Regions from separate parts of the Homo sapiens genome. Here regions 1 and 2 are each linked to region 3. Evidence: fine-mapped expression QTL. A gene starts in region 3. Each other region holds a variant in brackets. All regions are shown on one strand. Distances are from middle to middle.

Region 1 (4,187 bases), 71 kb after region 3:
ACGTGGCAGTGGCCCTCTAACCCTTCCCTCACAGGCAAGACTCCCAGGGATCCTTTCCCCGGCACTCTCCGCACCTTCCACACCACACCTCCCTTCCTCTGAGCCTCCTGCAGATCAGGTCAAGCACAGAAGGCTGTTTGTACCCATTCTCTGCTCCCAGGGACTCAGGTCTGTTGAATGAATGGGTGGTAAAGGTCCATGTGTTTCCTGGTCACATTCTTAACTCTTGGGAGCTCTGAAATCACCACACTCCTATTTGCATGATGTTCCATAGAGATTTTGACACTAATGATTGCAGATAGAGGCTCAGTACAACGTATTCCTCTTCCGCTCCCTTCCTTTACCGAGAAGGAAATTGATGCTCAGAGATATTCAGTGACTTGCCAAACGACTATACTTGTAAGTAACAGTGTCCTCAACCAAGCCCAGGACCTGTGATTCCAAGTACACTCCACTTCTGCCTCACTGCCTGCCTTGTCTCTGCCCGAGCAAGTCCCATTTTTTTCTCTGAGCGACACTGCAGGTTAATCATCAAATGATTCCTGGCCCCATCCTAACCCTCCTTGCTCCAGTTAAAGTCTGGGCTTGGACTACCCTGATCCAGTCTCCCTCAATTGCCAATTTCCCCAAGAAATGGTGTTGCCCAGCCAAGAGAGGAGAGATCTGTCCACGAGAACCTTGTCAGCAGCCTTCTCACATGAGGAGTGACGAGAACTGAGAGACCCAAACAATTCCCCGCAAGGTTTTATTTTTGGTATTTTTCGACTGAAATGACAGCGGACAGGTCCACCTGAGAAAGCAGCTGCATCTGCCTGCCTTTTACAGAAACTGGGGTCACCGGAGCAGAAAGGGTTCGCAGATACACTGTGTCCCAGGGTAGGGGACAAGACCAAGAGACCCCTGGCAGAGCATTCACTGAACAAGTACTTGCTGAGCAGAACAGATGAGGTTCTTGCCCTCTTGGAGCTTACAGTCTAGTCTAGTGGGGTACACAGACTTTAATCAAATAATTGCACAAACAAATTTAGAATTACAAACTGTGACAGAGCTGCATCTGCCTCAGAACTGAAGTGGTTCTGGTTTGTTTGGTTGGTTTCCACCTACACCTGGTTTAGTAAGGCTTGAACAAGCAGCAAACTGGGGCCCCAAGTCTGTAGAGACTGTATAGAGGTGAGTGCAAGAGATATGACTGTTGGATCTCCAGTGCAGAGGGGCTGGTCTGGGGCCAGAGACTCAGGCCTCACCATGAGCAGACCCTTGTCCCAGACACTCTAAGTGGCAGGTCCTGAGTGAATCCTAAGGGTGTGTCACTAGCTGGTCCTATCCTATCTTGGCTGATTGGCCCACCAAGAGAAGAGGAGTCCAGGGAACTCAGATTCTAAGATGGAAATCAGTAGGTTTCAGAGCTTCCATACTGAGTCTCGAGCGTGACTTGCTAAGATCCAAATCTGCAGAGGCTTTTGTGCCAGGCTAGAGCTACCCTTGATGAAGTCATAACCTGCCTCCATCTAAGCGAGGGCCCTCTTCAACTGGGAGAGGAAGAAGGACCCAGTGCAACACTAAAATCCTTGTCATTGAGAAGCAGTGTGGTACAGTTTGGGACTAGACCTAGTTTAGAAAGCCTGTTATGTTGCTTATCACCTGTGTGACTCTTGGCAAATCACTTAACCATTGTGTGCCTCAGTTTCCCCATCTGCAAAATGAAAGTAATAATATCCATCTCAAAGGGTAATCATGAGAACTGTATGAGATTAACACAATGAAACACCTGGTGCATAATGAGCTCCCAACAAATAGCCCTTTCTCCTTGATCTCAGCCAACAATCCATGGCCCATCTGTCATCGGAGAAGTAGCCTTGGTACAGTGACCCTAACTTGCCTCCATTCAGCTACATCCTGATACTGAATGTCTCTGTCTTCAGCATACCCAGGGCCTTCTGTTGCCTGCCAGGCCTGTCTCTACCTGCCTTCATTATGCTCCTGGAATTAATCCCTCAGGTACCTGGAATCCCCAGGCAGCAAGATACCCCTACTTAGGAGACAGGGAAGCCAATGATGCTGCAGAGGGGCTGGTAAAAGACTTCGCTTTCGTACAGCAATCCTAGACAGGAGA[C/T]GCCAAACCCTGGAAATGGCCTTTTATAAAGATACGATGAGCTGAGCAGAAGACTTCTTTCTTTAGAAGTCACCAGAGGATTAGGTTTGCAGCAGATGTGAGTTTTTAAAGTATGACTTCAGAAATGAAAAACCTTGGATATTTTTGAATGGCAGCGATTAGGTTGCAGACAGAGTATGATGGCATTCCCTTGTCCTGACCTCAGATGCAGCCCCTTAAGGAACCTATATGTATCTCCTAAAGGCCAGGGACACAGCCATGGCTGAGGCTATGTTGTAGATACTCCCTCAAGGGGGCTAGAAACCTAGGAGCACATATCGCATATGGAATAGAAATGTGGCAATGGGCAAGGGAGGGCTCTTCAGTGCCCATAGATGGGAGTTTTATCACCTTGTAGAGCAAAGCAGATTCCTGGATTACATATTTGGCATTGCCTCAAATTTGCTGAGAGTGGGGCATCAGGAAAGAGAAAGGGCCTAAACAGAGCTCCAGACCTACCGTCCCAGACCAGAAGGTGAATGAGGAGAGTCCACCTACCCCAGTGGCCACCCCAATTCTATAGCAAGGCAGTACCATAGTGAGGGATGGAGCAGAGGAAAGGGCTGTCTCTTTCCTTATTAGATCAAGGCTTGAATCTAGAATTGCCCATCTGAGCTAGGATGGGAATAACCTGTGGTTAGGCAGCTGGAGGAGGCAGATGGATATCCGATTTTTTGTTCCTTGATTCAAGCAATATCTAATTTTGGCTTTTCAAGACTAAAGAGCTTTATTGAAAAAACTTAACTTTTCCTGAGACCATCATGTAAGGACCACTTTCTTGGAGAATGGACTCTTCAGATCCCAGCATTAGTTTTGTATTTGGGGTCAGACCCAACTGCCCAAGTTCCAAGGCTCATGGTGGCCTGGGGTGTAGCCTTCGCAAGTGAGAGTAGCCCTAACAATGGATTCATGAGAAACATCACAGCTGGTCAAGAGGAGCTTTCTGGATAATGTTCAGCTTTGCTAACCAATGGCCCTCATGATGCAAGGGATTCCTTTATGAAAGACATTGGAGAAGGGGAGTGGTTGTTAGTATCAAGCCTGAGAAAGAAGTCACTTGGTCAGTTTTTTAGGAATTTACCTCCTCTTTATTCACAAGAGACCCACAAAGACCGAACACATAGTCTTCACAGCTTCAGAGCTTGATGAAGACCAATGCAATATGTTTCACAGCCACTCACTGCCACTCTCTGTGACCAGCTAGCAGGGATCTTGCTAAAAAGAGGGGTAGATTGGCCAGGTCAGGGGGATCCAGCTGTGACCTGAAGAACCCTGGAATATAGTTATGGTGCCTGCAGGTGCCAACAGAGTGAGAATGGCAGGGAAATGTGGGGGAACATGAGCAATCAGAGCTCCAGATAGCCCCCCAAAACCGCACGATTTTTATTCTTATACTGAAGTTCTACAGTAGATTTGGTTTGAATAAGGGAGTTTGTAGCAAAAATGTTATAGACATCAGCCTAAAATCCTTGGATTTTCTTCCCAGTGCTAATATTTTATGTCCTAAGATGCATCTGCACACCCCAGGATCTAAGCAAGAAGTCTGATTACCATCTATTCTTCAGGATCCAAACCCAATGCTATATGTTCCATGACACCTTCCCTGATTCCATCATCCCCACCTTCTGCTGAAGATAATTTATTTCATTGGTTGGTTTCTCTAGCTGGAAATAATTCCATTATTGGATGGATGCTTAGAGGGATGCATACCTGCATGGGATGATGAATAGATGGTTGATTTTCCTTCTATACCTTTCCTTCCTGAATTGGTGTACCTTTCATCCAACATTAAGACTTGCTTCTATTGTCAACTCTCTTGCCTCTCTTCTTTTCTTTCCTTTCTGTCACCTCAGCGTTTCCTAGTCCTGGAAAGTTTTAACAATGTCCTGTATGCTTGCTGTCTTCCAATGAAATGTATGGCTCTTTCTAGTGCATTAAAAAGTAATTCAGTTTAAGACTGGTCAAATCCTTTTTTGTCCCAGCACCTGGTCTGAGAATGATTCTGGTTTATAATCTTTTGGTGACCAGCTCTTCC
Region 2 (4,187 bases), 93 kb after region 3:
GACAGAGAAAATGAAAACGAGATATAAATAGAAATGTCAGTGTAGGAAGAAAAAAGAGGAAAGAGTGAGAAAGAGATAACGACAACTCAAAATTTTAGACACCTTGAAGGTCCAAAAGAAAAAAAGAAATCTGCTTCCAAAGATAGAGCAGTCAATTCAATTAAGGATTAACTCTACCTGAGGCATTTGTTGGCCATAGTAACACTAGAGTGAGACTAATGAACAAAGTAAGCTAAGCCTGGCCTCAGTGAACCCAGAGACAAAGTCTGACATTCAGTCAATACCTGGGTATCCATGATCCGTGGTCCACCAAAGTGCACAATGCCCAGAATATAGAAAAGACTCTATAAATGGTAGCTAGTTCTGTTATTACTACTTTTTCATTAATAATGAATGTGACAGATTTTGACTTGAACCCAGTGTTGCTATCACTATCTGTGGGAGAAAATACTAATTTTCTTTTAGAAAAAGGTATAATAAATGTAACAGGTGCACAATAAATATAAACTGATCGGCATGAGTACGTTTTTCTTTTAAAAAAACTCTCTTAATTAATGTGTCCCACAACTAGACACAATCACACCATAAAAAAACAAAAGTGGAGGGAGGCAGAAGGAGATAAAACAACTCCAGGAGTTCCATGTGTGCCTTCCAGCTCACAAAGCCAACGAAAGCTAAGACTTCTGGAGCACTGATCATATAGCGAGGAACTGTTCTAAATACTTTACACATATTAGTTCATTTAATCTGCATAACAATGCTTTGAAGTATTAGCCTCATTTTACATATGAGGAAACACAGTGAGGTTAAGAAACTTGGCTAAAATGCACAGTTTATAAGTAGAAGAGCCAGGATTATAATCTGGGCAATCTGACTCCATAGCTTATAATCACCACATCACATTATTCCCCACAACATGCACACACACAAGAAAGTTAAGTCCCAAACAGCTGATCATTCATCCATCCATCCATTCATTCATTCATGCACTCATTCATTCAGCAAATATTTGCTGAATGTCATCCCACTGTCATCCAGTCTGTATTTGGCATTAAGGATGGAACAGTGAACAAGGAAAGTAAGTCTCCTGACTTCTTAGAGCTTACATTCCAGTGGAAGTGGGGAGAGGTAGAGGAGAGGCAGCCAGAACAAATATCTTCCCATCAGAACAAAGAAAGCAGTGGGTCATAAAGTATCTTTCAAAATCAACATCTTGGGCACATTCAGAAAAGCATTTCTAAAAACCCAGCTAAGGGATAAAGATAAAAACTATCAATGGCATCCAACCTAGATATTCTACATGCAACAAATTCAAGAAATATCAGTTGAACACCAGCCAATGCCCTCACAATAACAAAGTAAGAACTGAGCTCAGGGAGCCCTAAGCTCAGTCACACCACAGGAAGTGGGCACTAAGGCTCTGGTGGGCTTTCCACTCTGCGACAGAGACAGAAGGTTTTTTAAGAGTCCAACAGGACTCTGAGCATCTTGACTCTCCCTCTTTCTTCGAAGCCTTCCAGTCCCACTTGAACATCTCATGATGCAACTCAGACCATTTATCTTCCCAAAACAAGGCAACCATTTTGCACCAGTTGAGGCAGACTTCACAGGCAGATGCACAGACTCCAAAGCAAAGTTCCAGGCAGATTGCTAAGCTGACTCAGACCCACCTCCGATGGAGTTTGGATGGCCCAATTTATTAAATGATGCCAAGCCCTGGATTGCAGAAAATTTGGCAGACTTCTGGTGCAAGGAAGCACCTTAGGTTTCTTTCGTAACCAGCAAATTTGGCATAAAAACAGTAATAGAGTATGTGCTCGATAAAGTCTCATTGATTAATTGATAACAGTTCCTTTACTCTTTTTCAGGGGTAGACAACCATATAGACATCAGTGGCTGCATCTGAAGTTGGAGAGCAAGTTCTCCAGCCCAACTATGTTAACGGCAGTCATCAAGCCCCAGGGACCCTATTCAGGATGCTGGTTTTTGAAGACAATGGCCCCAGTTGCTGCGACA[A/G]ACTCCAAACTCATACTGTTCAGAGTCTTGAGTCTTGAGCCAACACACCCATTTTCTGTCGCTCCAAATTTTTTGTAGGTTTTGAAATACAGGCAGGAATTTAGCCAGGTTTATCTAGGAGAAATGTCACGTGAGGCTCAAGGAAGTGTAGAGTTTTGCCAAATGTTACATGAGAATCCTAGTCTTTTCTTTTTTTAGCCACTGGACTCAGGTTACGCAGAACCTAGAACCTCTGCTGGCCGGGACTTCTTCCTCCTCGCCATCCTACAGGCCTGGGCGGCACAGGCGGAGTTATGCCTGAGGCCTCTCACATTTCCAAGGATCACAAGCAGCTTGGAATTGTGTTCCATCTCTCTGGTCCTTGGAACTGTGTTCCAAGCTGCTTGTGATCCTTGGAAATGTGTTTCCAATTGTGTTCCATTTGTGTTCCTTTGGGAAAGTATGGGCAATAGGGAGCCATGGAAGGTTTTTCACTGAGGAGTGACGGGGTCATAGTCACGCTTCTTTTAAAAGTGGCTTTGGCAACAGTGTGAAGATAAATTAGAGTTAGGAGAAAGGGTGGGAGGTTAGAGAGAGTCTTTCTAACAATTGTTTCAGCAAGAATTAACTACGGTTGAAACTGGAGTGGTAACCACAGATGATCCCAAGCCACCTGGCTCTCATTGCGTTCCATTCTGAAAGCTTCGTGTCTCTGCATTCTCGGAATCAGTCACACAGTAAGCACTCAATAAATGTTTGCTGGATTAATGAAAAGTGAATAAATCTAGAGTGAGCCCTTCATTTTTAAAATGAGGAAATAGGACCAGAGAGATGAAATTACCTGCCTATGGTTACCTAGCTAGGCAAGGGCAAAGATAGACCTAGAACCTAGCCTCCAGCTTCCCTTTTCCTGTGATTTTCTTTTTTTTTTTTTTTTTTTTTTTTTTGAGACGGAGTCTTGCTCTGTCACCCAGGCTAGAGTGCAGCGGCACGATCTCGGCTCACTGCAAGCTCTGCCTCCCGGGTTCATGCCATTCTCCTGCCTCAGCCTCCCAAGTAGCTGGGACTACAGGCACCCACCACCATGCCCAGCTAATTTTTTGCATTCTTAGTAGAGATGGGGTTTCACCGTATTAGCCAGGATGGTCTTGATCTCCTGACCTTGTGATCAGCCCGCCTCGGCCTCCCAAAATGCTAGGATTACAGGCATGAGCCACCGTGGCTGGCCTCTAGTGATTTTCAAACTTTGTCATGCATCCAAATCACCATTCCCAGGGTTTCTGATTTGGTAGGTCCAGGACAGGGCCAGAGGACTTGCATTTCTAACAAATTCCGAGGTGATGCTGAGGCTGCCGGTCCAGGGATCACATGTGAGAACCACAGCCTTATCTAGTTCTCTTCTATAACACCTAGCTATCTTGCTCAGAAAGCAGGGCCTCACCTGGCTCCTTCATCCCTCACTGCTTGGCTCTGAGTTTTTGGGAGAATAGACATTCCAGCCTGCACAGTGGTAACATAGTTTGCTAGCTAAGAGCCCAGACCTGCGAGTCAAGTGCCTGGGTTTGATCCTGCCGCCACCAACCTTGTCTCCTCTGGGTATGTACATTATAGAATTCTTGTGAGGGTTAGATTATTGGATGTGTGTAAAACAGTACAACAGTGCCTGGCAAATAGTAAGCACCCAAAAGGGATAGCCATTCTTGCAATCACGGATAGGCTTGAGCCTGGGCCCTGAGGGGAGTCTTATGGTACTGCCTGAACTACAGAGAGGAGTGAGAATATGCCACAGAGTGATGACAGATTATACCATATCGTCACCTAGATTCATGAACATACAATACACATCAACAATGAGTGCAAAGATTGCTAGGAGGGATAGCACTGTGGGCTGATGCTATCTGGATCTCCCCCAAGTTTCCTCCAAATCCACTGTTATCATGGATCTCTTATTACTCTGAGTCAAGGAACCGGATTACTAAATCACAGTTTGTAAATTACGATGAGTCACTTTATCTAATCTAGACGGTCATATGCACTCACCTCTCAGAGGCTGTGATGTCAGCTTGGACAGATTAGAGCATCCAAAGCAAAGGGCAGCATTGAAACACCTGTTCCTTGCAGCCCTCCACACCCTCAGGCAGCAGCAGCAGCACCTGACTATGGTGCACAGAACCCACGGGTGCCTGAGAAGG
Region 3 (4,187 bases):
GCTGTCCTTACAGACCCCCTGACTTCCAAGGAGCTCCCCTCTCACCCAGCCTGGCCTGCCTTCTCCACAGGGTAGCTGATCGTCAGCATCATCTTCAATGGTGTTGTCAAGAGCACTCAGTGCTCCTGCCATCCCTGTCCATCTCCACATGAAAGGAGAGGTTAGCACTCCAGCCTGGGCGACTGAGCAAGACTCCATCTCAAAAAAAAAAAAAAAAAAAATAGAAAGGAGAGGTTAGGAAGGAGATGAAGCCTGAAAGCACTGGGAGGACACCCCAGCATAGGGGAACACAGAGACACGTGAAGCCAGGGAGAAAACCAGTAGTACAGATAAGAAATGGAAGAAAGCAATGACAGGAAGAGAGACAAAGAAACACAGAAAGAAATAAACAAAAATGCAACAAAGAAGGTTTTTAAAAGCAAATCAAAAAATAAGAGTATAACAAAAAGGAGGAGAGCAGCGAAGAAAAGAAGTAATGGAAGACGCTATGAGGACAAGAGACCATCCCTAGATTCCAAGCTGCTTGGTTCACTGTTCCTTCAGAGGGGGCAAGGCCTAGGCACAGCGAGGAAGAAGGCATGCAGGGAGGGGAGGTGCCATCTCCACCCCCATTGTCCTTCCCCTCCTCAGGTCTGGTCCATCAGGGAAACCTAGGACACAGGCTCAGGGGCATTTGTAGAAAGAAGTTCCAGAAGCTGTCAGATTTCAATACATCCATCCTGCCCTCCACTGCCAGGTGCCACCTCAGGTGTTCCCAGGCCTGCTCCTCTCCCCCAGAGATGTGGCTTCAGCTGCCAAGCAATTCCTATCAGTCTTGTCATTCTCAGTTGCCCTTTCCCTAAGCTCTGTGTGTTTCCCTCTGTATTTGACACATTTGGGGGCACCCCAATCTTTTTCTTGAGGCCTCTGGGGCTAAACTACACTTTTTGCATTTCTGAGAACTCAGAGAATAAACAGCAGAGGCCTAAAACCATGGACTGGTCTTGAATCCTGGAAATATCTTGGTTATTTGCAAAAGGAACCTCACCATGCCTCTCTCTTCTCTTGCTGTCCCCTTCTGTGGAGGGGGCGGGTGGCTATGAGAGGACTTGGCCTGGCACTCTCTCCCTCTGTGGACCATTCCTGTCTCCTCACCTTCCAAATCACATGGAAGAGGCACAGTAAGTACTCACAGAAGATGACCCAGTAGAATCCCAAGTCATTAGTGAGGGGCTTGGGCCTGGACCAAGGGGGAAGCCTGATCCCAAGTCCCTCCCCCTTCTCACCCCAATGGGAGAAGGCTTGAACCTAAGTCCACATCCTTTCAGTTAAAATGAGCAGGAGCCAAACTTGTCATTGTTTCCTAACATGTGCTCCTACAGCAAAAAGGCAGGGGTGGCTCTAGAAGGCGAAAAAGCAAAGAGGGCACTTCGCAGTGCGGTGGTGAAACCCAGAGTCAGAAAGTCTCCAGAGGATGAGGCTCCTGGCATCCCCAGCTCTGTGGGGAGGAGGAAAGGGTCTTAATGGGCAGTCATTCTGAGCAGAAACCCCAGTGTCGGGCCCAGGAAGAGCGGGATGAAAGGGGGAGGGAAGCCCGCTGGTAGCCAGGCGGAGCCAGAAAAATAGGAGGTGCAGAGCGAAGGCCTCTGCTAGGCCGCTGGCCTGCCACCTGGGCCCAGAGCGACTTCTTGCTGTGCCACACCCACTAGCTGCCATGTTCATTCCTCAAAACCTGAGATTTCCCCTCAAAACACAGATGGGGGATGCGGGAATCAGTCTGGCCAGCCAGTCTGGCTCCGGTGTTCATGGCCAGGGCAGCCTAAGTCACTCATGGCTTCTTAGCTGCCCTGAAGGCTGAAATACAGAGCATCTTTGAGGACATCTGCTCTATCTGTGGGAAGGAGGACAAAATGCTCAAACTATAATAAAAGCAAGGGCCAGGACCCAAAGGGGTCTCACTCCCTGTTTCTCTGGACTCTCTGTGGGGTGCCTGTGTGCAGGATTTCTGCAGAAGATAGTCCATTTTGTTAAGCCTTTGAATATTCAAATTGAAAGTATCGCGCAATCATTGATTGTCAAATCATGGGTTTCTAGAGGTTTTAAATACTTGGCATGAGGGGGAAAAAACTCAAACCTATACCCGAAGGTATAAAACATTAATTCTGTTTGTCTCCTGTTCCAGGGACCTGGGTGCAGCCGGATGCTTTGTGAAATTTTAAAAATGTTGCATCTCTGCTTCTCTCCCTGCCCCAGGAGCCCTCCCAGGCGCTGAGTCCCTGCTGCTGCAGCATCCAGCCACCGACCCAGCTCCTGCTGACCACGATGTCGGGTAACTCGGCTGCTTCTCCTAGGGTCGGGTCAGGCGGGCCAGGGGCATTTCAATCCGGGTGTGTTTCCACGGCTTTTCCTGCATAGAACAGAGAGGCACAAAGTCAAGGCATGCGAGTAAGGGCCGGGGATCCGGAGAGGACGCGAGCCACGCTGTGGCCGCTCCCACTCAGCGCCTGTCCCGGAGGGCAGAGGCCCAGAGGCCGAGTTGGCCGCTCCGGACGTCCGCGTACCCCAGGCCCCCGCCCGCCCTCCCACGTATCCACTGTTGTGTCCTGAGACACGCGGTGCGGACCCTGCGCGCCCAGAAGCTGCTACGGGGGGAGCTAGAGGCTCACAGTGAGCCTGGGACGGGGGCAGAGCGCACCGACTGCACTGAGCCGAGCTGTGGCGGTCCCTGCGCGGACCCCGAGGGGCGCCCGCTGCCCGCGGAGTCCGGAGCCGATCGGGGAACGGGGTGGTGGGGCTGCGGTAGGCTGGAGCGCGGAGAGGGCGCGGCGCCTGGGCCCTGCGGGCGGGGCACGGGATTCCCTGGGTCCGGGCTAGGAAGAGCGCAATCTCCTTTCCTGGGGAGACCCTAACTCCTGGAACCCGGCTTGAGGGGGATCCCTGCTGTCCAGCTGCGGTCCCCGCAGTGACCAGGCGAGGCGCTGGCATCCTGGCACTATCTCCAGGCGTCCAGGCTGAACGCGCGGTCACCCTCGGCCGCCGCACCCAGCGCACTTCCCGGCGCGATTCCTGGACGCACACTGCAGGGTAGTGGTCAGGGCCGGAGCCGCCCCGGACTCCTGCGGCCACCTCCACCTTGAAAGCTCGCCCGGCTCGGCTTGGCCTAACAGCCAGTCCCCAACCTACTCACTGCGGCTTTTCGGGGCCCGGGGCTGAGGCTGCCCCTGCTCCCAGCGCTCAGGGGTCCCTCCCAGCGAACCCCTCTTGAGCGCGCCCGCCACCTCCCGCGAGCCGGGGCAGTCCGACCGGGCCCCGCCAGCCCCGGGGCGGCCCCTACCGAAGGGCGGCCTCCCGGCGGAGTGCAGGGTCATCGGGAGCCCCGGACGGCTTTCCCCAGCTCGCGCTGCGCGGACTCGCCCCGGAGCCTCAGTGCGCCTCGGAGAAACGCCTGCCCCAGAAAGGGAGGGGGTAGGGAGAGAGGGGAAGAAGGGGAGAGTAGGAGCGGGGGCGAAGGAGGGAGGAGGGCAAGATGGAGCGCGGAAAAGGCGGAGAAAAGGGACGAGGGAGAGCGGGCAGAAGGCAAAGACAGAAGGGAGCGAGGGAGGGAGTTCCTCGGGCCTGGCCCCTTTACTAGGTCAGTCTGGCAGGTACCTCGCCGGCCCAGGACGGGGCTGGCCAAACCTCACCGCTTGCTCCCGGGCTGGCTTCCAGACCAAGGGCACGCAGAGGTCGGAGCCTGCCCAGAAGCCACACCTGGCCAGGCGGAGAAGGAAGGGACTCGGGACTTCCATGCTAGTGGGAACATCACAGTGGGGTGGGCTACGTCAGCCGCCATAATCAGAGAAAGCCCCCTGCCCCAGGCCTGGCCCCTCCCCAGGTCCATAATACCCTCTCTCTCGGCTGTCTGGGTCTGAAAGCCAAGGTTCCCCCGACCTAATCAGAGTGGTGGGCTCCGCTGCACTGGTCTCCATATTCCAGAGCAGAAAAACCCGTTTGCTATTGGCCTAGGACTGAGGCCCAGCCAGGGGTGGATGGCCCCACAAATTTCCACGGATTCTTTTCCTACTGGGGCTCTGAAACCTGCTCAGCTACTCTTCATTCTTTCAAGTTTGAAATGTTTGGGTTTTTACCATCCTTTGACATTTTTTGTGTGTGTTCTCCGAACTTAGAAACTTGGCTTTGGGTGCCATAGCCTATAAAAGGGGCCCCCA

What was found. PIP is the estimated chance that this variant, and not a neighbour inherited with it, causes the effect.
Region 1: its variant is the best candidate, but not a certain one, in a credible set for the expression of POU2AF3 in sun-exposed skin (GTEx, PIP 0.82).
Region 2: its variant is the best candidate, but not a certain one, in a credible set for the expression of POU2AF3 in esophagus mucosa (GTEx, PIP 0.68).

The regions. Positions count from the first base shown.
Region 1 is chr11:111,367,095-111,371,281 of GRCh38, forward strand. The region is part of intron 1 of POU2AF1 (POU class 2 homeobox associating factor 1); the gene reads right to left. Among named protein-coding and RNA genes, the nearest start is that of POU2AF1, 10 kb to the right of the region's middle. RefSeq lists an enhancer at 622-781. The variant C/T (reference allele first, on the strand shown) is at 2,114.
Region 2 is chr11:111,389,254-111,393,440 of GRCh38, forward strand. It overlaps a transcript of BTG4 not described here. Among named protein-coding and RNA genes, the nearest start is that of POU2AF1, 12 kb to the left of the region's middle. The variant A/G (reference allele first, on the strand shown) is at 2,017.
Region 3 is chr11:111,296,281-111,300,467 of GRCh38, forward strand. It overlaps POU2AF3 (POU class 2 homeobox associating factor 3), which reads left to right and starts at 2,266. Exons shown (of 5, transcript NM_001271458.2): 1 at 2,266-2,308. The coding sequence starts at 2,302. It overlaps COLCA1 (colorectal cancer associated 1), which reads right to left. Exons shown (of 2, transcript NR_169237.1): 2 at 1-2,386. RefSeq lists a silencer at 3,206-3,405.